Homo sapiens: one gene and its partners. The protein of the gene in region 3 interacts with the protein of the main gene of each other region in a pairwise test. Each region holds a gene or a part of one and is shown on either strand. Other genes may lie near its edges.

Region 1 (7,026 bases), on a different chromosome or scaffold from region 3:
AATCATGTAAATAAGCATTAATTAGGATAGAGCAGAGTTTCAATGAACAATCTGGAAAATCCAGAGAGGCTTCCAGAGTGGTGAAGGGCACTGGTTTCCAATCCACACCTCTGGGCTACTTTAAAAATACAGGCTCCCAGACCAGCCCTAGACAGAACGATGTAGGATCTCAGTAGGAAAGACGCATTTTTAAAAGAGCTCATGGGATGGTTTGGGGGAACCACTGGTATAGTTGGAACAAAATTTTGCAATCAGATCTAGGTTTGAATCTTGGCTCTGCTCCTTGCTAGGCCTATAACCTTGAGCTAGTTACTTAACCTCCCTGAGTCTGTTACCTCATCTGTAAAATGGCATCCCATTTTTCTGCAGCAGAACTACAGGGATTAAATGAGCTCACAGGCAAAAAATTCTATCACAGTTTCTGGCACAATATGTGATCAATGGCTATTTGCTGGTCCACAGCCCACACACACTCTGAGCATGCAAACAACCCACGGAAAGGCTCAAGAGGAAGGCGTGAAAATGTGTTGCGATCTACAGCTGCCCAGCCCAGCCCAGGGGTACTGAGTGTAGAGACAGCTTCTCAAGCAGGGGCCAGGCAACCTCTGCTATTGCCCAGCAGAGCAGTGCAGCCAGATTCCACTGCCTTATCCACTGAACAGATATACTGCTCCCAGCTTTTTCTGTGTGACAGAGTCTTGAAATACATAGTGCAGAGTAGTAAACTAAGAAACAATCTGCTGTCTCCCACAGAGCTCACAGAGACCATGACACCCAATAGGTGCCAAGTATACTGTTTGTTGATTGCAAAAGCTCTCTGAGAAAGAAATGGGCTGCCCTAGAACACAGAGTACCTGAGCCCCTATCAAATAGAGACTGGATGAGCACATAGCAGTGACTCCGGGGACATTCAAAGTCCAGCCCTGGGCCTGGATTAGAAGGCACCCGAGATCTCCTTTGGGCATGTGATTCTGTAATTCATTAAGTATACTAATGGGAAAACAAAGCTGCCTATGTTTTCTGCTGGAATATAGGGGTAGGTCAGGGGTCCAAGAAAGCACCACCAAAAACTTAAGGAAAGTGACACTCTTTCCAGAGCCTTCACAGAGGAAGCAGGGCTGGGCAGGGCACTGGCTTACTGGCGTTCTGTCCTGACAGCTTCAGTTCCAGCTCTTGCACCTGCTTGACCAGCAGGGAGATGTGCTGGAGCATGTCCTTGTTCTGCAGCAAAAGCTGATGCACGCGAGCCTGGGCCTCCAGCCGCGCCGCAGCCTCAGCAGCCAACTGGTCCTTCAGCAAGTGTACCTGCAGAGAAGAGGCAGCGGCAGAGAAGACAGGACAGAGAGAAGAGAGGGACATGAATGCACATGAGAGTCACTGGCAGATGGCCGGGACCAGAGATGCCCTCCACATTCAGTTCAAGAAGAAGCCCTTCACGGGCAGCATGGGCATCTGGGCTTATCATTCCAGAGGAGGAGCCAAAAGGAGTGGGTTCACTGGCACTGCGAAGCTGTGTGTCCTAAGGGAGGGCCATGATGCATCACTAAGGTACCCATACCAAGGGCAAGAGGCAGGAAAGAGCCATCGACCCTCTAGACCTGCCACACACACACACGTACACACACACGTGCACATATACACACACACACGCACGGTGCTCCATCCCTGCTTAGAGAACTCCTTCAGCACCTAGCATGGCATGCCATGTTGGAGGTGGAAGGGGGCACTCTCTTCTCATCCTGTCTTCTAAAAAACAAAACCAAAACTCATCTATTGACCCACTGGCTAAGAACAGTGTCACAACGAAGCCCATATAATCTTTCTCCCTCTCCCACTCACCCAAACATAGTGAGAAATAGGAAGCACTACACATGGCTTTTTAAATTAGTGAGGCAGCTGTCATCAAGCCACTCTGTAGGCGACAGCTTCTTTCCCTGTCTTCCTTTTTTATTTGCTATGGCAGACATCTAGGACCATGATTCATACCACATATTACCAGGACCACCTGGTAGGGGTCAAACATTTGCTGACTGATTCATGAGAGGGCCTCCTCCAACCAGCCCAGAAGGGCTGAGGTGAACAATTTGTGGCACCCTCATCAGTTTCCAACCTTCTTAAGGCAGAGCAGTTGGCAGCAATGCATTCAGCATGCTTGAGGCCCAGTGGTGTCAACAGCTCTGTTCTTGGTGAGCAATACTTATGTGGAGATAAAACTCAGTGGGAGGAGACAGGGGCAACCAGACCAGGACCCTGGTTTGAAGAAACTGAGTTAGAAGGCCAATACCAGTGTTCACACATATGTGATTCTTGTGCAAAGAAGTGAATAAAGAGTTCTCCAGGGAGCATTTCAGAAGGCCCCTGAAGAAAGGGAACTAATGAATTTTTATGGCCTGGACCAATGTAGCTTATGGGGAAAAGGGTGTTCTTGTACCAAAACCATGGTGTGGGTAAAGACAGAGCCAGGTGAGTGGGGGCAGGAGAGGTGGGACGAGGATGCAGGAAGATGGATGGGGAGTCAAAAGCATTAGCTGATTCCCTTGCTCAGAAAACAAGTGCTCAAATTTCTGAAGAGGAGTTTGCTCCAAAGAGATTCACATTTTTTTAGGGAGTAAAGGGCAGTGCTACCTCACAGTTGGCCACCCTTGGCCAAGTGACTTGCTGGCCCAGGGTGTGCCCCTCCCAGCAACCAGCACTCAGAGAATTACACTTGTGGATACCGTGGCTGCCTCCCTCTTGCCCAGATTGGAGGCCCTGACCTTGCCGTTGACCCTATTTCTGATTGAGTGGAGCCACAGGGGCATAATGCCTAAGGAATTTAAACTAAATCTGTCCTCCATAAAGCTGCTAAGGACAGAACTGATATTTTGGTCAAGAAGTCAGACTCATTTTTTTGTCTCATATTAATTGAGAGAAGATCTGGGGAGGGGTGAGAACAGGTGTGATACAGTGAAATACATGTTTGGTCTTCATCCCTGTTTCCTGACATATAGCTCCCCAAACCCTTGAGATCTCCAGAGTGGTAAGAGTGTTTTTTGTATGCTTATTAGATGATTAGTGGTTGGGGAACCCCTGGAAGCTTCGGGATGGGGGCTGCTCACAGGACAGACCAAGGTATGATTAGAGGATAGGATTTTTCAGTCCCACGCCCCAACCTCCAGGAGATGAGGGGCTAAAAGTTAAACTAATCACCAGTGGCCAATGATGTAATCAATCATGCCTACATAATAAAGCCTCCATTAAAAACTCAAAAGGACTGGGTGTGGGGAGCTGCCGGGCAGCTGAACATTTAGAGGTTCCTGGAGGGTGGTGCACGTTGGGAGGGCATGGGAGCTCTGCCACCCTTCCCACAGACCCTGCCCTATGCATCTCTTCCATCTGGTGTTCATTGGTATCCCTTATAATATCCTTTAAAATAAACCAGTAAATGTAGGTGTTTTCCTGAGTTCTGTCAGTTGCTCTAGCAAATCAGTTGAGTCCAAGGAGAGGGTAGTGGGAACACCAATTTATAGCCACTTGGTCAGAGGTGTAGGTGACAAACTATTACTTGTGATTGGTGTCTGAAATGGGGGAAAGTCTTGTGGGATTGAGCCCTCAAACTGTGGGATCTGATGCTGTTTCCAGGTAGATAGTATCAGAATCAAACTGAGTTAGAGGACACTGTGTGCCCTCTGCAGAACTGCTTGCTTGCTTGGTGTGTGGGAAAAAGCCCCATACATTTGGTCATAGAAGTATGTTGTGACAGTATAGCAGGAAGAAACTGAGTTTGTTTCTTCCTATATCCACTCAACAGGGAAAGAAATGTCAATAATATTGTAATCTGGATGTCAGATGGTGGGTGGCTATTAAGGTTTTCTCCTCTTTGGAAAGGGAGGCATGGAGAAATTTCAGCTGGGGGTCCCCCAAATCTATTTGGTTCTAAGGAACAGGACAACTGCTATGGGAAGCCCACAGATAAGCCTCAGAGAAGGGTAAGCTTAATCTTGCACTTATGAGTACCGTTACTTATCCCAACAAAGAGTGGCATCGAAAGGAACCTACTGAGCAAATAAAATTACTAAATTATTCATCTTCCATTTTCTTTGGAACCAAACCAACCAGAGAGAAATGTGGAACAAAGTCTTTCAGCAGATATAAACAAAGAAAGTAGAGAATCCTGCATACCTCTAACTGGCACTTATTGAGGGCTCTCTGCACACATACTGCAGAGTCAGTTTCTTTTCTTTTCTTTTCTTTCTTTCTTTTTTCTTCTTTTTTTTTTTTTTTTGAGACTCACTCTGTCACCCAGGCTGGAGTGCAGTGGAATGATCTCAGCTCACTGCAACCTCTCCCTCCTGGGTTCAAGCGATTCTCCTGCCTCATCCTCCCAAACAGCTGGAATTACTGGCGCCCGCCACCACACCTAGCTAATTTTTGTATTTTTAGTAGAGACGGGGTTTCCCCATGTTGGCCGGGCTGGTCTCAAACTCCTGACCTCAAGTGATCCACCTGCCTCGGCCTCCCAAAGTGCTGGGACTACAGGTGTGAGCCACCATGCCCAGCCCAGAGTCAGTTTCCTGCTTTCCAGTCTGAACATCCCAACAGGACAGGCCATTTGAATGCACCAGACCAGGAGCTGGAGTGCTTGTCTGTTGGGTACTCCCTAGGCAGTTGTAGACAACTCACTTCTCTCTGGACCTCAGTTTCTCCATCTGTCAACCGAGAGGACTGGCTTGAGGCTGAGACAGTTGATAATTCTACATCCAGGTTGACATTGTGGTCAGTACTGGAGGCAATTTGTTAATGGCTCATTGAAGAAAACTCTCAGTTCCCCATTGTGAAGTCAGAATTAGAATTGAGGGTGAAGGAAAAGTCCCCTCTTACAGAAGCCAGGAAAAAAATTGAAAGCTTTTTTTGCAGGTACCCAAGTTCAATGGTGGAGTACCAGCAATACCTAGAAGAAGACCTTTGACTCAAATGCTTCCCATCGCAGATCCATTGGCACCAAGTGCCATGAGAAAATGCTCCTTGTACCAGATTAAATAAGAGTTTTACCTCTGTAAACCCAGTTACACTATTTCAGGTATTTTCAAGTCCTGTGAATATGTGAGCACCCACTGCTGCTACTGCCTGAGCCAGCACTAATGAGCCCTCTGCTTCTGCAGCTGTCAAAAGTGGTACTGGGCATAAGGCTCAAACCTCAAGCTGTGGCAGGCTGTGCTGCAGGAGAACCCAAACCAGGCCATACTGAGACAAAATAGCCTGGACTTCTTTTAACTTTGAGGTGCAGCATTTTATAACTATGTAGGCTCGAACTTGAAGCACTGAAACGAGGCAGCGTTACGTGAAACCTTGGTTTGGGCAGTCTGCTACAGCCCTCTGTGCTTTGTTTCCCCATTCATACAACAGGGGCAGAGAGCACCACCTCCTCCCCACCAGATGGGATTTTTTTTTTGTATTTAGCATGCTTTTCTTTCAAAGAATTAAGCCCCTTTTGTAAAAGTAGACCATATTTCTTTCTGGAAAGGTACAAATTAGTGTCTCCTTTGCAGAACTGTGTTGTCTTTGGCAATGAATGTTGTACTTACATACTAAGTCAGTGATGTGGCACAGAGTGATGTGACACTACGGCCACGTCCCGAGTGCCAGGGCTCAGATGTCCAGCTCTGCACTCTGGCCTCATCATGACACACAAAAGTTCAGCCCTGCACCCTCCAGCTCTACACTGCTTTCCCAAACTCTGAAACCCACCCTCAACCCACCCAGCCACACCAGACCATTGGCGCCCTCACTCTCCAGCTTACTTGCCTGGACTCCAGCTCCTCCATCAGAAGTGAGGGCAGGGCCAGGCTGAAGTTAGGGAGTAGCAGGCACATGGAAATGGCAGTGGAGAGAACCAGAGCAATTTGCCCCACCACACACTGGACACAGAAGCAGAGGCAGGCGCCGCTGTCTCAGCATGCACATGGCAGGGACTTGGGCAGTGCATGCCAGCGTGCTGGGGACTGGGAGAAGCCACAGGGACATATGCTAAATAGAGGGCCTGGGGTGGGGATGCGGAGTTTTGTTAGCACTGTTCCTCTAACTACAGCATACATGATTGCGAAGCATAAATAACCAATTCCTTGTTCCTGAACAAACAGAAGTGGCAGCAGGTAGAGGAGAAATCTTTAAATAGCAATACTGAACTGTACTAACACTTTCCTCAGGAAAAAGGCTGGGAATTGGCAAACTGTGAATAGACCTGGCCTACTTAACACTTGCCAATCAGCCACAGTGCCCAGATCAGTTCTGAGACTATGTCGGCCCAGCCCATGGCCATGCAGGTGCCAGCTACATCCCAGCTTCGCTTCGAGGCTTAGCTATACTCTCATTCACACCCTTGAACTTCTGGTCCACCTAAAAGCAGGAAGCTAGTGCAGCCAGGCAAGCCTCATGCTGGGTCGGAAGAGCGGTCAGAGGGACTTGGGTATTCACTACTTACCCACTGAGGTCTAACCCGGAAATACTTAAGAGTTGGTTGAATACCACCTTTGCCCATATACCTTTAAGGTCAGGGCGGGCCCCTTTGAGACCAGCTCAGAACCAATTTAGGGTGAGGCTGGGAGAGGTCTTGCGGTCTTAGACCAAATCAGGACACTGTGAAGGAAACCTAAGCCTGGTCCCCATGGCAACAGCAGAACTAGACTAGTCTGTGGGAAGAAATGGGGGTGGTGGGGGGGGGACGACATAAATAGTGCAACAAGTGACATCAAGGGTACACTTGTCTGCAAGAAACTGTCTTTATCCTTAGATTTTTATCCAGGAACAACATAGGAGGATTTGGATGCTCTCCGAGAGAAGGAAACTATTCCCACCTGAAAGGCTGAGGTCATAGTTTTACTCACTGGAATTCTGGGGACTGCTGGTAGTTTAATAAAGACAGACAGAAGCCTTGCAGTTTGGTGGCAATAGAGTCTGACAGAACAAGTAAGAGCTGACCTCGTGCTGGAAACTGAAATCAGCCCCCCCCCGCGTAGAGAAACCAAGCTTGCTATACTTGGTCTATTT
Region 2 (7,351 bases), on a different chromosome or scaffold from region 3:
GAGGGAGAACTAAGTCCCATGGTGCTAGGCATGTCATGCTCAAAAGAGCCCCTCCCAAAGCAGTCTGAAGCACATTCTCACTGCCAGCCATCAGTAATCTTTTTTTTTTTTTTTTTTGAGACGGAGTCTTGCTCTGTCACTAAGGCTGGAGGGCAGTGGCACGATCCTCTCACTGCAACCTCCCCATCCCAGGTTCAAGTGATTCTCCTGCCTCAGCCTCCTGAGTAGCTAGGATTACAGGCGTGCACCACCACGCCCTGCTAATTTTTGTATTTTTAGTAAGACAGGGTTTCACCATGTTGGTCAGGCTGGTCTCGAACTCCTGACCTCGTGATCCACCCGCCTTGGCCTCCCAAAGTGCTGGGATTACATGTGTGAGCCACTGCGCCTGGTCCCATTAATCAGTATTTTTAATTTTCACAATTATACAGGGGAATTGTTAAATTAACTGAATCCATTATAAAAAATTAATTTATAGTTTAAAAAAATTCATTGGTGAAAACAGTAAAAATAACACTAATTTAAATGATAATCCAGTATTACAGTTCTTTTAGAATTTGTCTAGCAGGTTTTCCAGTTTTCATCGGAAACTCTACTATCTCAACTCTCCCAAAAATTAAATACATAAATTAATAAGTCATCCATCAGGGTCAAAAGCAAAAGAATCAAGTCAGCAAACAAAACATAAAAGAAGCAAATATATGCCTTTCTGTTATTAAACCCAACTCTGCCAATTTAGTTTCAACAAAAGACACTGTCTATTGCATTAAACCAATATTAGTACTTTTTTTTTTTTTTTTTGAAATAAAGTCTTGCTCTTTTCGTCCAGGCTGGAGTGCAGTGATGTGATTTCAGCTCACTGAAACCTCCGTCTCCTGAGTTCAAGCGATTCTCCTGCCTCAGCCTCCTGCATAGCACCAGTCACCATGGCCAGCTAATTTTTGTATTTTTTTTTTTTAGTAGAAATGGCGTTTCGCCATGTTGGCCAGGCTGGTCTCAAACTCCTGACCTCAGGGGATCGGCCTGTCTTGGCCTTCCAAAGTGCTGGGATTACAGGCGTGAGCCACCAAACCCAGCCAATGTTAGTACTTTTAATGTTACTGGTTTTATAATTCTGTATGTAACAGAAAAAGCATATTTGTGGGTTTTCTGCAAATTAATTGAGATCTTTAGCTATAAATAAACTAAAAGATTATGAAGTTTATACTTCGCTCTATTTTTGTACACAAATGAAGTTAACATCAAAACAATTAAACACTGGGGGTTAATGTCAATAACTTTTTTGTTTCTTCTAAAAGGCCAAGGTATTAGGAGTTAAAATGAAAACAGAGAGAAAGGTAAGCTCCCTGAAAGCAGAAATCTGTCTTGTTCTCTGTGGTATGCCTAGCCCCCAGCTCAATATTTGCTGAATAAAGGAAACATATTAACGAGATAGCAAAACCGACGAAATTATCACCTCATTATCAACTAAAAGAGAAGAATCCTGCGGGAAAAGTTATATAGGACAGACACATCTTGGCTGGGAGGCAAGAGAAAAAAGTAAACTAAAATATACTGGCTGCAGGGCATCTTCCTAAATGCTATATGGTGACCCTGTGAAGACATCGTCCCACTTCACAGATGAGAAAAACAGCTTCAGAGAAACTATGAATCTTACCAAAGGTCACTCGTCTAACTTCCCTAACCCCTCCTGTCACCTGCCCCTTCCCTTCCATCCCTCCGGTTGATGACTTTATCTTCATTTAGGAAACTGAAGAGTGGGCTGGAACTCTCTCACTCATCTTCCCACCACCAATCTCTAAACTCATCTGAATCTGCAACTGTATTCTCTGTCCTCGCTCCTGTTACAACTGAAGAAGCCTTGCTGTACGTACCAAAGGTCAATCCATCCATTGGTTGCCCTTGATCCCATCCATCCTCTGTACCTTCATAAAGGCTCCATCTGTCTATGGCTTTAGCTTTAGGACCCTAGCCTTTTCTAATTCCTCAGTTTCGGCTCCCCAGATGTAGTTTGCCCCAAAACATCTAGTGACTGGTGTTTAAGACATAGTACAGGACGCAATGGCTCACGCCTGTAATCCCAACACTTTGGGAGGCCGAGGGAAGAGGACTGCTTGAGCCCAGAAGTTCGAGACCAGCCTGGGCAATACAGTGAGACCCCCGTCTCTACAAAAAATTTAAAAATGAGTCGAGCTTGGTGGCGCCCGCCTGTAGTCCCAGCTACTCGGGAGGCTGAGGTGGGAGGACTGCTTGAGCCCAGGAGGTGGAGGCTGCAGTGAGCCGAGATCGTGCCACTGCACTCCAGCCCGGGAAACAGAGCGAGGCCCTGCCTCAAAAAAGAGTACAGGATGAACGGTCAAAGAACACAGTTAAAAGCACAGACGCTAACTACTATGTCACAGAGTGGCGTGAAGACCAAATAAAATAATGTCAATAAAGAGCTGAGCATCGCATCTAGCACATAGTGAGCACCCAATAAACGTCAGCCATCATCGTCGTCATCGCAGCATCTGCTGCTGTTGTTGTTAAACATGTTTAATTGAGGCTGAAAAAACAAACAAAAAACAATCAAGCAGAGATGACCGCCCCGGGCTTCACTGACAGCTCTGGGAAAGTTTCTAAAGTTTCTCGAGGGCTCTCAAGCCGAGGCCACGGCAGCGTGTACCCTGGGCACCGGTGTCTGCGACAGAGAGAGACAGATTCACACGAACATACTTTCGGTCCATCAACCACCTTTCTCCTTCCTCCTTCCTCCTTCCGCTTCCCTCAATCCCAAACTGAGGTCCCAGGGACCTCCCCGAGCTCACCAAGGTCCTTGTCGTTGATCCCCAAGTGATTGTCCAGCTCAGTGCAAACCTTTGACACCAAAGACAGGTACTCGAGTTTGGCAAGTTCTTCCGCGGGGCCTGGCTCCGACCCGATTAAGGCTCCCGCCATGGCTACAGCCACAGCCATGGCTATAGCTTGCCCAGAACCTCCTTCCTCACAGCCGGCGCTCAGAGCTACTCCGGCCGGGTTCCAGCTTTCACTTCCGGGTCAGCGCGCGTCCCCTTTGTTTACGGTAAATTGAAAATTTGAGGAACGAATCAAGTCCCAACAGGATGGATCATAGAGATCAAACAGGAAGTGCTTAAGGAAGGGACAACTAGAGTGGGTTACTCTGCACGCCGATCTGCGCCCTCTACAGGCGAGAAAAATCTCCGCCCGCCCTCAGGCCTGGAAACGTTCACTCAGCGCGCTCCCGCCCTGGGTCGGCAGAGGGCGACCCCGGCCTGCACAAGAGGCGCCGGGAGGCAACCGCAAAACAGCCTGCGCCTGCGCTTTAGAACACTTGAAAAAGGAATCTTAATGCACGTCTGGAAAAAGACAAACTTGCTTTACTGTGGATCCGCAAATTCCCGGCCTCACTTCTTTGTGGTTCCTGTCGTCCGATCTCAAGTGACCCTTGACAAGCCAGTAGGCAGTAGATTGCCTTCTCTTGTTTTACACACGAAGAAACTGGCACTTCCACTGCCAGCTGGCTGCTTGGGCAAATCAATCTCTGGGGCCTTAGTTTTCTCATCTGTAAACTAGAATAATGTTGCTCTACCCTAAATGGAATAACTGCAAGGAGTGTGACACAGAGTAGGCACACCGCAAATGACAGTTACTGTTAATATCACAAGGCTAGGCCGGGTGCAGTGGCTCACGCCTGTAATGCCAGCACTTTGGGAGGCCGAGGCTGGTGGATCACTTGAGGTCAGGAGTTCCAGACCAGCCTGGCCAACGTGGCGAAACTCCATCTCTACTAAAAATAGAAAACTTAGCCGGGCGTGGTGGTGGTGGGCGCCTGTAGTCCCAGCTACTCGGGAGGCTGAGGCACAAGAATCGCTTGAACCCAGGAGGCAGAGGTTGGAGTGACCTGAGTTCACACCACTACACTCCAGCATGGGCGACAGAGTGAGACTTTGTCTCAAAAAAAAAAAAAAAAAAATTCAAGGCTGAGATGATGGTCACAGAACTGGCCTCTGGTCTGTCAAGCACAGATCCCCTTAGTCTGGGAACCCACAGAGCCAGCTGCCTCCACTCTTGTGAAAACCTGCTTTTCAATCCCCAGTTTTCCTGTGTCCTCTCAGAACTTATTCCCCCAGGGGCTGGGCACTGTGGCTCACCCCTGTAATCCCAGCACTTTGGGAGGCCGAGACGGGCGGATCACTTGAGGTCAGGAGTTCAAGACCACTCTGGCCAACATGGTGAAACCTCGTCTGTACTAAAAATACAAAAATTAGCTGGGCGTGATGGTATGTGCCTGTAGTCCCAGCTACTAGGGAGGCTGAGGCGGGAGAATTGCTTGAACCTGGGAGGTGGATGTTGCAGTGAGCTGAGATCTCGCCACTGCACTCTAGCCTGTGCGACAGAGTGAGACTCCGTCTCAAACAAACAAAACACACACACAAAAACAACAACAAACCTTATTCCCCCAAATATCAGCTGTGCTGTAAGTCCAAGGTCATAAGCTCAGGTCTCCCAACTTCTGCTTCAGGTCTTTTTTACCTTTGTGGCAACCTTAATGTGGGATGGGGATTTTTCCCACACTCCAGTGCTCTGTGTGATGAGTAAGGAAACAGAAGCACCCTAAAGTGAATGGCTCTCCAATCAATCGGAAGGAGGAAATCAGTCTCCCACTTTTCACTTTGGCAACATTTTTACACTGGTGTACCTTTGGACTCTGTTTCTTCAACATCTCATCATGGACTGAAAAATGACAGGCAGAGAAAAACCCAGCCATTGTTCTCACTGTCTCCAGAAGCTCCAGGTTTCCAGGTTCCTAAGGAATCACTACTAAACCCTCTGAGTTCTTCCTACCCCTCCCCATTTCGCTTCCTCTTTCTCCCCATGAATAGAATGGAAAACTCTGCACTTGATCCAATGTGCTCAATTTGCCAGCTTGGAGTTACGATTTCAAGGGCTTATTCTATCTGATGTTCATTCTCTGTGCTTCTTTCTCTTTAAAAATTAATATTACTATTCTGCTTTCCTCCAATATTTAACCGGAAGGAGGAACAGATAGGGAGTTTGTTTTGTTTTCAAAGCTCTGTCAGAATAGGGGCTATGGAACCATAACATGTAGCAGCAGTAGTAGCAATAAATACTAGAATTAATAAATACTAAATGTTAGAATTGTTTGGGAATTATTGAACATATATATCAATAGTAAATATTAACAGCAAAACATTACATTTTATTTAGATATGCCATTAACTGCACATTTTAAGAAGTGACAGTTTTTCTGCAATATACATATTTCTTGCAACACCAAAAATTTCTTTGAAGCCAAAGGAAAACAAATAGTTATGTAGATACAGATAACTTGACAGCCCAAACACAGATGCACATGGAATCCTCCTACTCTTCCTCCCCATAAGAGACCGTGAATCGAACGCAGTGCAAAAGTAAATGTTTCCGAACTGTCCTCTGGATAGAATATTTTTCAACATAATATCAGATATAATTAATTTTCATTATTAGGTCGGGTGCAGTGGCTCACACCTGTAATCCCAGCACTTTGGGAGGCTGAAGCAGGCAGATCGCCTGAGGTCAGGAGTTCGAGACCAGCCCGGCCAACATGGTGAAACCCCGACTCTACTAAAACTACAAAAATTAGTCGGGCGTGGTGGCATACACTTGTAGTCCCAGCTATTCGGGAGGCTGAGTCAGGAGAATTGCTTGAACCCAGGAGGCGGAGGTTGCAGTGAGCCAAGATCACGCCAATGTACTCTAGCCTGGGCGACAGTGATACTCTGTTTCAAAAAATAAAATAATAATAATAAATTTCCATTATTATTGTATGACTTTCCTTGGACAGCCTCCATGTGGCCCTTTAATAGCCCAGTAAATAATTTACCTCTACATATAACTTATGCTCATACTACCCATATCACCACTCATGATGGATAAGAAATTATTTCCTGATACCAAACTTGTAGTAACAGGGATGTTACTTTTCTGCCTGTTCCTAGACTTATAGATGTGTTTAACCCTACCCCCGATTTCCATGTTATTTCTGCTCTGTCCCAGAGACTGGTCCCAGCTGCTGGAATTTGGGAAAGAACTTGGGGGTTGGGATGAGGTAGAAAGCAGAGAGAAAGTACTGAACCTCTTAGCAACATCAGGTTGAGTTGGTAAGGGAGAAGAAATTATCTAAGTACGTGTAGCTGAAAGACAGCATCCTTAGGGAAGTTTGTGAGAAAAATCATAGGGCTTTCTGTCAAAACAGTGTTGCCACAACCCAGACAACCCTGGCCTTTTCTGCTGGGGTAAAATGGATCTTAGGGGAGACATCTCTGCTCTAGGAGGCAAAATCAGAATGGTTTGCTTCTAAGCATATGACTACCACTCAACTGTTACTGTCATTCATGCAGGGAGACTTCAGAAAGAGTGGCCCCTTCTTCCCTGCTCCACTTGGGCCCTGACCCAACCAGAGAGCCTGGGAGCCCCCAGAGAAAGTAAAATTCCTTATTTTTCACTGTTTGACTTTTCCCCAGAATTCATCTCCAAATTTGGACCAACTTATTAAATTTGTATTAAACTTCAACCTTGTGACCAGGCACTGTGGCAGGTTCTAAAAAGGATAGGAGGTCTGAAAGTGGAAAAACATCAAGGAAGAACTAGAATACTCTGAATGCCATTCTCAGCCAAGGGGTCTCCTGGCAGAGCTGTGTTTATAACTTAGATCTCTGCTGCCTAAACATGAGGGCAGGTGATTGGAAGACAGAAAAAAAAAAAAAAAAGCTGGTCTGTTTACCGTCATCTGAGGGCAGGCAGATTGGGGTTGGAGGGCAAGTCTACTTCACAGGGCAGTTTATCCTGTTGCAATCTGTTATTTGTTTGCCTTATTTTCTAATACCCAAGCGCAGCCTCATTTTTGCGCAAAACATTCCTGACCTACAGTTCCCTCTCTTTTTAGGCCATCAACCTGCCATCAGCAATAACAGATGCTTTAGATTCTAAATTCTCCAAGGCTTTATAGTATTAGGCAAAAAAAAAAAAAAAAAAATGTTCTTCCTAAGCAGATTTTTTTTTTGGTATAGTCAAGTTTCCCATTTCTCTTGCATTTTAAGACTCTTCAAAATGTCAGGCAAAAACAAACACAAAGCCAGGCACCCAGACACCATTATGATATGAACTTGTCAAGAAAATGGTATTCCCCCATCTCGGCCTCTCCACCTTCTGTGGAAATGGCAAGGAATTTTTTCATATTTATTTATCAGTTTTTCATCTTTTTTCTTTTTTTCTTTTTTCTTTTCTTTTTTTTTTTTTTTTTTTTTTTTTTTTTTGAGATGGTGTCTTGCTCTGTTGCCCAGGCTAGAGT
Region 3 (7,026 bases):
CAGGCAGGAGGATCGCTTGAGCCCAGGAGTTCAATACCAGCCTGGGCAACATAGCGAGATCCTGTCTCTATATTTAAAAAAAAAACAAAAACCCATAACCAGAATGCTATTATTGTGCCTAAAACATTTAATAATAATTCCTCTATTCTCAGCAGTTTTTTCTGTAGTTTATTCCAATCAGGATCCAAATAATGTCCCTAAATTGCAGTGACCGTATTCTTATGGTATTCTTTGGCATGTTCTGTCCTCTGTATTTCCAATAGATTAATAGGTCTAGAGGCCTGAGAAGGCTCAGATTTGAGTTGGGGCAAGAATACTTCATAAGTGGTGCTGTTTACTGTCAGGAGGCAAATAATGTCTGGTTGTCACTTTTTGTCATATTAACAGCCATTGATGGTCATTATCTCGATCCATTATTTCATTAGGGGTTGTAAAATGGTGATAGTCTAATCCTGGCTTTATCCTTCATTTATTAGGCAGAATGATTCTATAAGAGAAACTTACCCTCATCAACTATTTAGATACCCTGAAATATAGTTTATATTGTAAGAGCAGGATAATTGCTTGATTTTTTTTGTTTTAATGACTTTTCAAATAATGAATTGGATTTTTAAAAAGTATTATTAACCCAAGGATTTAAACATATTTGACATATTTTAATCCATTACACATAAAATTATTCATAATGTTCAAATTGTTGGGACTTTTTAGGCTGTTTTATTTCTGTTGTCTTTCTACAACATCAGAACTGTATTTCATTGTTCCCTTTAGTGAATTTTTTTTTTTTTGAGACCGTGTCTCACCCTGTCACCCAGGCTGGAATGCAGTGGCACGATCACAGCTCACTACAACCTCAACCTTCCAGGATCAAGCCATCCTCCCACCTCTGCCCCCACTTTCCCCATACCTGGGACTACAGGCGTGTGCCACCACACCTGGCTAATTTTTGTATTTTTTGTAGAGACACGGTTTCGTCATGTTGCCCAGGGCTAGTTTCTAACCCCTGGGCTCAAGTGACCCACCCGCCTCAGTCTTCCAATGTGCTGGGATTACAGGGGTGAAACACTACACCCAGCCTCCTTTAGTGATAATTTTTATAGCAAAAGATGATTTGGTTAAATAAGTTAGAATACTTTTTAAAAAAATTCTTAAGAGGCAGTGTCTCGCTCTGTTGCCCAGACTGGAGTGCAGTGGGCTAATCATAGCTCATTGCAGCCTCGAACTCCTGGGCTCAAGTGATCCTCCCGCCTCAGCCTCCTGAATAGCTTAGACTACAGATGTGTGCCATCACACCCAGCTACTTTTTTTTTTTTTTAATAGAGACGGGGTCTTGCTCTGTTTCCCAGGTTCAGTTAGAAGCAGATTTTTTTAAGTAAAATTATCTTGTAAGTTTGAATAAGCTGGGAATTCAGATCATTTTATTGTCACCTTTCTTTGCCTTGAAAAATTAAGATGTATAGTCACCAGTTCAAAATTTAAAAAGAAAAGAAAAATTAAGATGCCCTCTAACATAGGAAGATTAAGTGAATTTGTATCAAATTAAAATCCCTATAGGAAGAAATATAAGAAAAAGAGGTCTAAGAAGAGCAGAAAAGAGTCCAGTGATTCAAGCTCTAAAGAATCCCAAGAAGAGTTTCTGGAAAATCCCTGGAAGGATCGAACAAGTAGGTTCTTCTGATAGACTAACTCAGAACAGATGAAACATTAAAGTAACCAATTAGTCAGAATGTGAATGTGTTTCTTAATATCTTTCATGCAGAGGCTGAAGAACCATCAGATTTAATTGGCCCAGAGGCTCCAAAAACACTTACCTCTCAAGATGATAAACCTTTGAAGTAAGCAGCAGTGTGTTTATAATATCTAAAGTACCTACCAAAAAGTCTGGTTCTAACTTACCTTGCCAAGCTTATCTGACTCTATTCCCTTATTTCTACTCCAGGTTCCAGCTGAGCTGGACTACTAAATATTCCCTGGGCTTAATGTGCACTTTGCAACTTTTATGCCATGTTCAGCTTATTTCTTCATCCAGTATGCCTTCCCTTCTTTTCCCTGCCCTCTGTTTTCTTCCCTATCGCCAGTTTCTTCCTGTTAAAATCCTTACTATCCTTCGAAGCCCTTTTCAAAAGGAGATGCATATGCTGATTCCCAATACTTCCCCTCCACAAGTAGGTGTGATTTCTGTTTCTCTTTGATCCTCACAGAATTTTTTATTCCTTTTTTTCTCTTTTTTCTTTTTTTACCAGCAGAATTTTTTTTTCTTTTTGTGAGACGGAGTCTCGCTCTGTTGCCCAGGCTGGAGTTTAGTGGCGTGATCTTGGCTCACTGCAACCTCTGCCTCCCAGGTTCAAGCGATTCTCCTGCCTCAGCCTCCTGAGTAACTGGGATTACAGGCACGCGCCACCACACTCAGCTAATTTTTTTTTGTATTTTCAGTAGAGATACGGTTTTACCATGTTGGTCAGGCTGGTCTCAAATTCCTGACCTCATGATCCACCTGCCTCAGCCTCCCAAAGTGCTGGGATTACAGGCGTGAGCCACCGCACCTGGTCTAGAATTTTTTTTTTGTTTGTTTTGTTTTGTTTTTTTGAGATGGAGTCTCACTCTGTCTCCCAGGCTGAAGCACAGTGGTGTGATTGAGTTTCACTCTGTTGCCCAGGCTGGAGTGCAGTGGCATGATCTTGGCTCACTGCAACCTCCACCTCCCAGATTCAAGTGATTCTCCTGCCTCAGCCTCCCAAGTAGCCAGGATTACAGGCGCCTGCCGCCACGCCCGGACTAATTTTTGTATTTTTAGTAGAGCTGGGGTTTCGCCATGTTGGCCAGTATGGTCTCGAACTCCTGATCTCAAGTGATCTGCCCGCCTCAACCTCCAAAAATGCTGAGATTACAGGCGTCAGCCACTGCACCCAGCCTACTTTGTTTTTTTTTTTTGTTTTGTTTTGTTTTGTTTTTTGAGACAAAGCCTTACTCTGTCGCCCAGGCTGGAGTGCAGTGACACGATCTCGGCTCACTGCAACCTCTGCCTCCCAGGTTCAAGTGATTCTCCTGCCTCAGCCTCCTGAGTAGCTGGGACTACAAGCATGCACCACCATGCCCGGCTAATTTTGTATTTTTAGTAGAGACGGGGTTTCGCTATGTTGGCCAGGCTGCTCTCAAGCTCCTGATCTCAGGTGATCCTCCCGCCTCAGCCTCCCAAAGTGTTCAGATTGTAGGCGTGAGCCACTGTGCCTGGCATACTTTGGATTTTTTAAGGGAAAAAGGGAAAGGGAATCAGCTGGAGCCAGAACCAGTAATGACAATACCTGTAGGGATAAATTAATCCATAATTGTAAACTGTGAATCTATACTCACAGCAGTTCTTTTCTTTCAAAATATTTCTGCATTTCTGGGTTAGTTGTATAGGTCATAGTGCAATGCAATGTTTAATACACTAATTAGGATAAAGCAATTCACATTGAGCTTCCTAGCACACTACTGCTGAGCACTGTTATTCCTACTCTTGTTTGAGAGAAAATGTGGGGATTTTTGGTGCTCTCTTTAGATTATAAGCTTTTAATATTAAGATGATTTAATGGACCTTTTCTGAATTCTGAATTACTTTGTAGCTATGGCCATGCTCTGTTACCTGGTGAAGGTGCAGCTATGGCTGAATATGTAAAAGCTGGAAAACGTATCCCACGAAGAGGTGAAATTGGCTTGACAAGTGAAGAAATTGCATCATTTGAATGCTCAGGTTATGTAATGAGTGGTAGCAGGTATGTTGTTGGCATTAAGCTCAGTTTCCATGATTAGATCTTTTTCTTCTTTTTTACTACCAGAATTATATTTTGGTAATTGATTTTCATTAAGTGACTGTTTCTTATGAAAAGTAGAGTATAAATATTGGTTTGATATTAGTGTTGTTAGTATAACATGGTTTTCTGCAATTCCAAGTATATATGCAACTCAGCCTCAAACTCAGCTATATCTCTGACTTCAAAGAATCAATCTTCCTAATGTCCTTTCCTAGTTGGTATTTGCTTACAGATATTTTATCCACTGGAGGATATAGTTAAATTCAGCTATTTATCACTGCCCCATGAGGAATGTGGCAGTTAGGAAAATATTTTCACAAGACAGTGTTTCCTGGTTACAAGTTTGTCTTCAGTTTTTTATGGACCCAGATTTCTGAGACTGAATAACAGAAAAAGATGATAAAAGACATTGGTCAGCTGAGAATATATCCTGGCTAATAAATAAATGAATAAATAAATAAATTTTAAAAAGACACTGGATTCAGCATGGGAAATGAATATAAAATTAGGAAAGAGAAAAGTTCCAGGAAGAACCAGGAGAATGAGCAAATAGGGCAGCAGTACTTAGATCAAATTGAATTTTGGATTCTTTAAAACTTGATAAACTTTTTTTTTAAGTAGATAACTATTTTTAAATGACACTGAAGGCAAATATTTGCAGAAACCCTGAAGCACCTCCAGAATCTTGTAATACTGAGGACCAATATTTGAAGCATTGCATTGGAGGACCCACACAGTAAGGCAAGAAAAAGAAATTAGAGACACAAGGATTGGAAAGGAAGGCTGGGCACGGTGGCTCATGCCTGTAATCCCAGCACTTTGGGAGGCCAAGGCAGGCAGATCACTTGAGTCCAGGAGTTCAAGACTAGCCTGGGCAACATGGCGAAACCCTTCTCTACTAAAAACACAAAAATTAGCCAGACGTGGTGGTACACACCTGTAATCCCAGCTACTCAGGAGGCTGAAGCAGGAGAATCGCATGAACCCAGGAGGCGGAGGTTGCAATGAGCCAAGATCACACCACTGCATGCCAGCCTGGAGAGCAAAACTCAGCCTGAAAAAACAGTAATAATAATAATAAGGATTGGAAAGGGCGATATAACAATGTCATTTTTTAGCCAGGCGTGGTGGCTCACGCCTGTAATCCCAGCACTTTGGGAGGCATAGTTGGGTGGATCACCTGAGGTCAGGAGTTCAAGACCAGCCTGGCCAACATGGTGAAACCCTGTCTTTACCAAAAATACAAAAATTAGCTGGGCATGGTGGCGGACACCTGTAGTCCCAGCTCCTCAGGAGGCTGAGGCAGGAGAATCACCTGAATCCAGGAGGAGGTTACAGTGAGCCAAGATCGTGCCATTGCACTCCAGCCTGGGTGACAAGAGTGAAACTCCGTCTTAAAAAAAAAATGTCATTTTTTTGTGAATGACATGGTGAATGATTTGATTGTTTACATAGAAAATCCCAAAGAATCTCCAGATAAATTATAAATGAGAGGAGGGTTTAACAACTGGTTGGATATAAGGTTAGTACACAAAAATCCATTGCATTTCTATTTACCAGCAACAGACAACTAGAAAATGTAACTAAATAAGAAGAAAACATTTGTAATAGTATCAGAGAATATGAAGGACTTCAGAATAAATCTTAACAAAAGATGCCCAGGGCTCTGTGAGGAAAACTATAAAACATTATTAAGAGATTGTGTATTCAATACAGTTCCAATAAAAATGAACTGCATTTCTATTTACTAACAACAGAAACCTAGAACCTTGAACGTTTATAACAGTGTCAGAATATGAGAGACTTAAGAATAAATCTTAACAAAAGATGCCCAAGGTTCTATGGGGAAAAATGTAAGACATTAAGAGTCCATATCTTCAATATAGTTCCAATCAAAATCACAACACAGTTGTTTATGAGACTTATTAAGCTGGTTCTAAAATTTATATATTACACTAAAAGGACAAGAATAGCCAGGTCACTTCTGAAGAAGAAGAGCAAGAAGGTAAGATTAAAGAAAACTTAAATAGCTGGAGAGATACCAGGTTCACGGATAGGAAGGCAATATTGTAAAGTTGTCATTTCTTCCCAAATTGATCTTTATATTCAATACAGTCCCAATCAAAATCAGAACACAGTTTTTCATGAAACTTAATAAGCCAGTTCTAAAATTTATATACTAGACTAAAAGGACAAGAATAGCCAAGTCACTCCTGAAAAAGAAGAGCAGGAAGGTAAGATTTCCCCTACAAATAGGAGGACTTATTATGAAGCTTACAGCACTTTAGAAAGCATAGGAGAACAACTGAATTGTTCAGTGGAATAAAATTCAGGCCGGGCGTGGTGGCTCATGCCTGTAATCCCAGCACTTTGGGAGGCTGAGGCGGGTGGATCACCTGAGGTCAGGAGTTCAAGACCAGCCTGGCCAACATGGTGAAACCCCATCTCTACCAAAAATACAAAAATTAGCTGGGCGTGGTGGCTAGTGCCTGTAGTCCCAGCTACTTGGGAGGCTGAGGCAGGAGAATCGCTTGAACCCATGAGGTGGAGGTTGTAGTGAGCTGAGACCTCGCCATTGTACTCTAGTCTGGGCAACAAGAGCAAAACACTATCTCAAAAAAAAATAAAATAAAATTCAGAGCCCAAAGATAACCATACACGTATGGAACTTCAGTGTATGAAAGAGATAGCATGTCAGATCAATGGGGAAAGAAAGAACTATTCAGTACATGAAATAGGAGGCTGAGGCAGGAGAATCGGTTGAACCTGGGAGGCGGAGGTTGCAATAAGCCGAGATTATGCCACTGCACTCCAGCCTGGGTGACAGAGGGAGACTTGGAAGTTAAATCCACTGATAAAAACTGCTGTTCAATTACAGATTTAGACTTGGTTCTTTTTTTTTTTTTTTTTTTTTTGAGACCTAGTTTCACTCTTGTCTCCCAGGCTGGAGTACAGTGGCGCAATCTCAGCTCACTGCAACCTCCACCTCCTGGGTTCAAATGATTCTCCTGCCTCAGCCTCCCAAGTAGCTGGGATTACGGGTGCCCACCACCACACCCAGCTAATTTTTGTATTTTTAGCAGAGACGAGGTTTCACCACGTTGGCCAGGCTGGTCTTAAACTCCTGACCTCAGGTGACCTGCCTGCCTCAGCCTCCAAAAGTGCTGAGATTACAGGCGTGAGCCACCATGCCCAGCCTAGACTTGGTTCTTTTGGTTTTATGGTAAAGTAG

Evidence for each region. The genes of interacting proteins can lie anywhere in the genome.
Region 1: the proteins of NKAP (region 3) and NOS1AP interact in binary tests that used the Homo sapiens proteins (3 or more experiments, as listed by UniProt).
Region 2: the proteins of NKAP (region 3) and DHX8 interact in binary tests that used the Homo sapiens proteins (3 or more experiments, as listed by UniProt).

The regions. Positions count from the first base shown.
Region 1 is NC_000001.11:162,359,683-162,366,708, reverse strand, and holds part of NOS1AP (carboxyl-terminal PDZ ligand of neuronal nitric oxide synthase protein), read right to left. Parts: intron 3,727-7,026; exon of another isoform or gene 1,360-3,726; coding exon of another isoform or gene 1,306-1,359; coding exon 1,140-1,305; intron 1-1,139. UniProt on the Homo sapiens protein: Adapter protein involved in neuronal nitric-oxide (NO) synthesis regulation via its association with nNOS/NOS1. The complex formed with NOS1 and synapsins is necessary for specific NO and synapsin functions at a presynaptic level.
Region 2 is NC_000017.11:43,479,642-43,486,992, reverse strand, and holds the start of DHX8 (ATP-dependent RNA helicase DHX8), read right to left. Parts: upstream 3,019-7,351; 5' UTR 2,956-3,018; coding exon 2,808-2,955; intron 596-2,807; exon of another isoform or gene 535-595; intron 1-534.
Region 3 is NC_000023.11:119,926,745-119,933,770, reverse strand, and holds part of NKAP (NF-kappa-B-activating protein), read left to right. Parts: intron 1-1,554; coding exon 1,555-1,664; intron 1,665-1,759; coding exon 1,760-1,835; intron 1,836-3,605; coding exon 3,606-3,755; intron 3,756-7,026. UniProt on the Homo sapiens protein: Acts as a transcriptional repressor. Plays a role as a transcriptional corepressor of the Notch-mediated signaling required for T-cell development. Also involved in the TNF and IL-1 induced NF-kappa-B activation.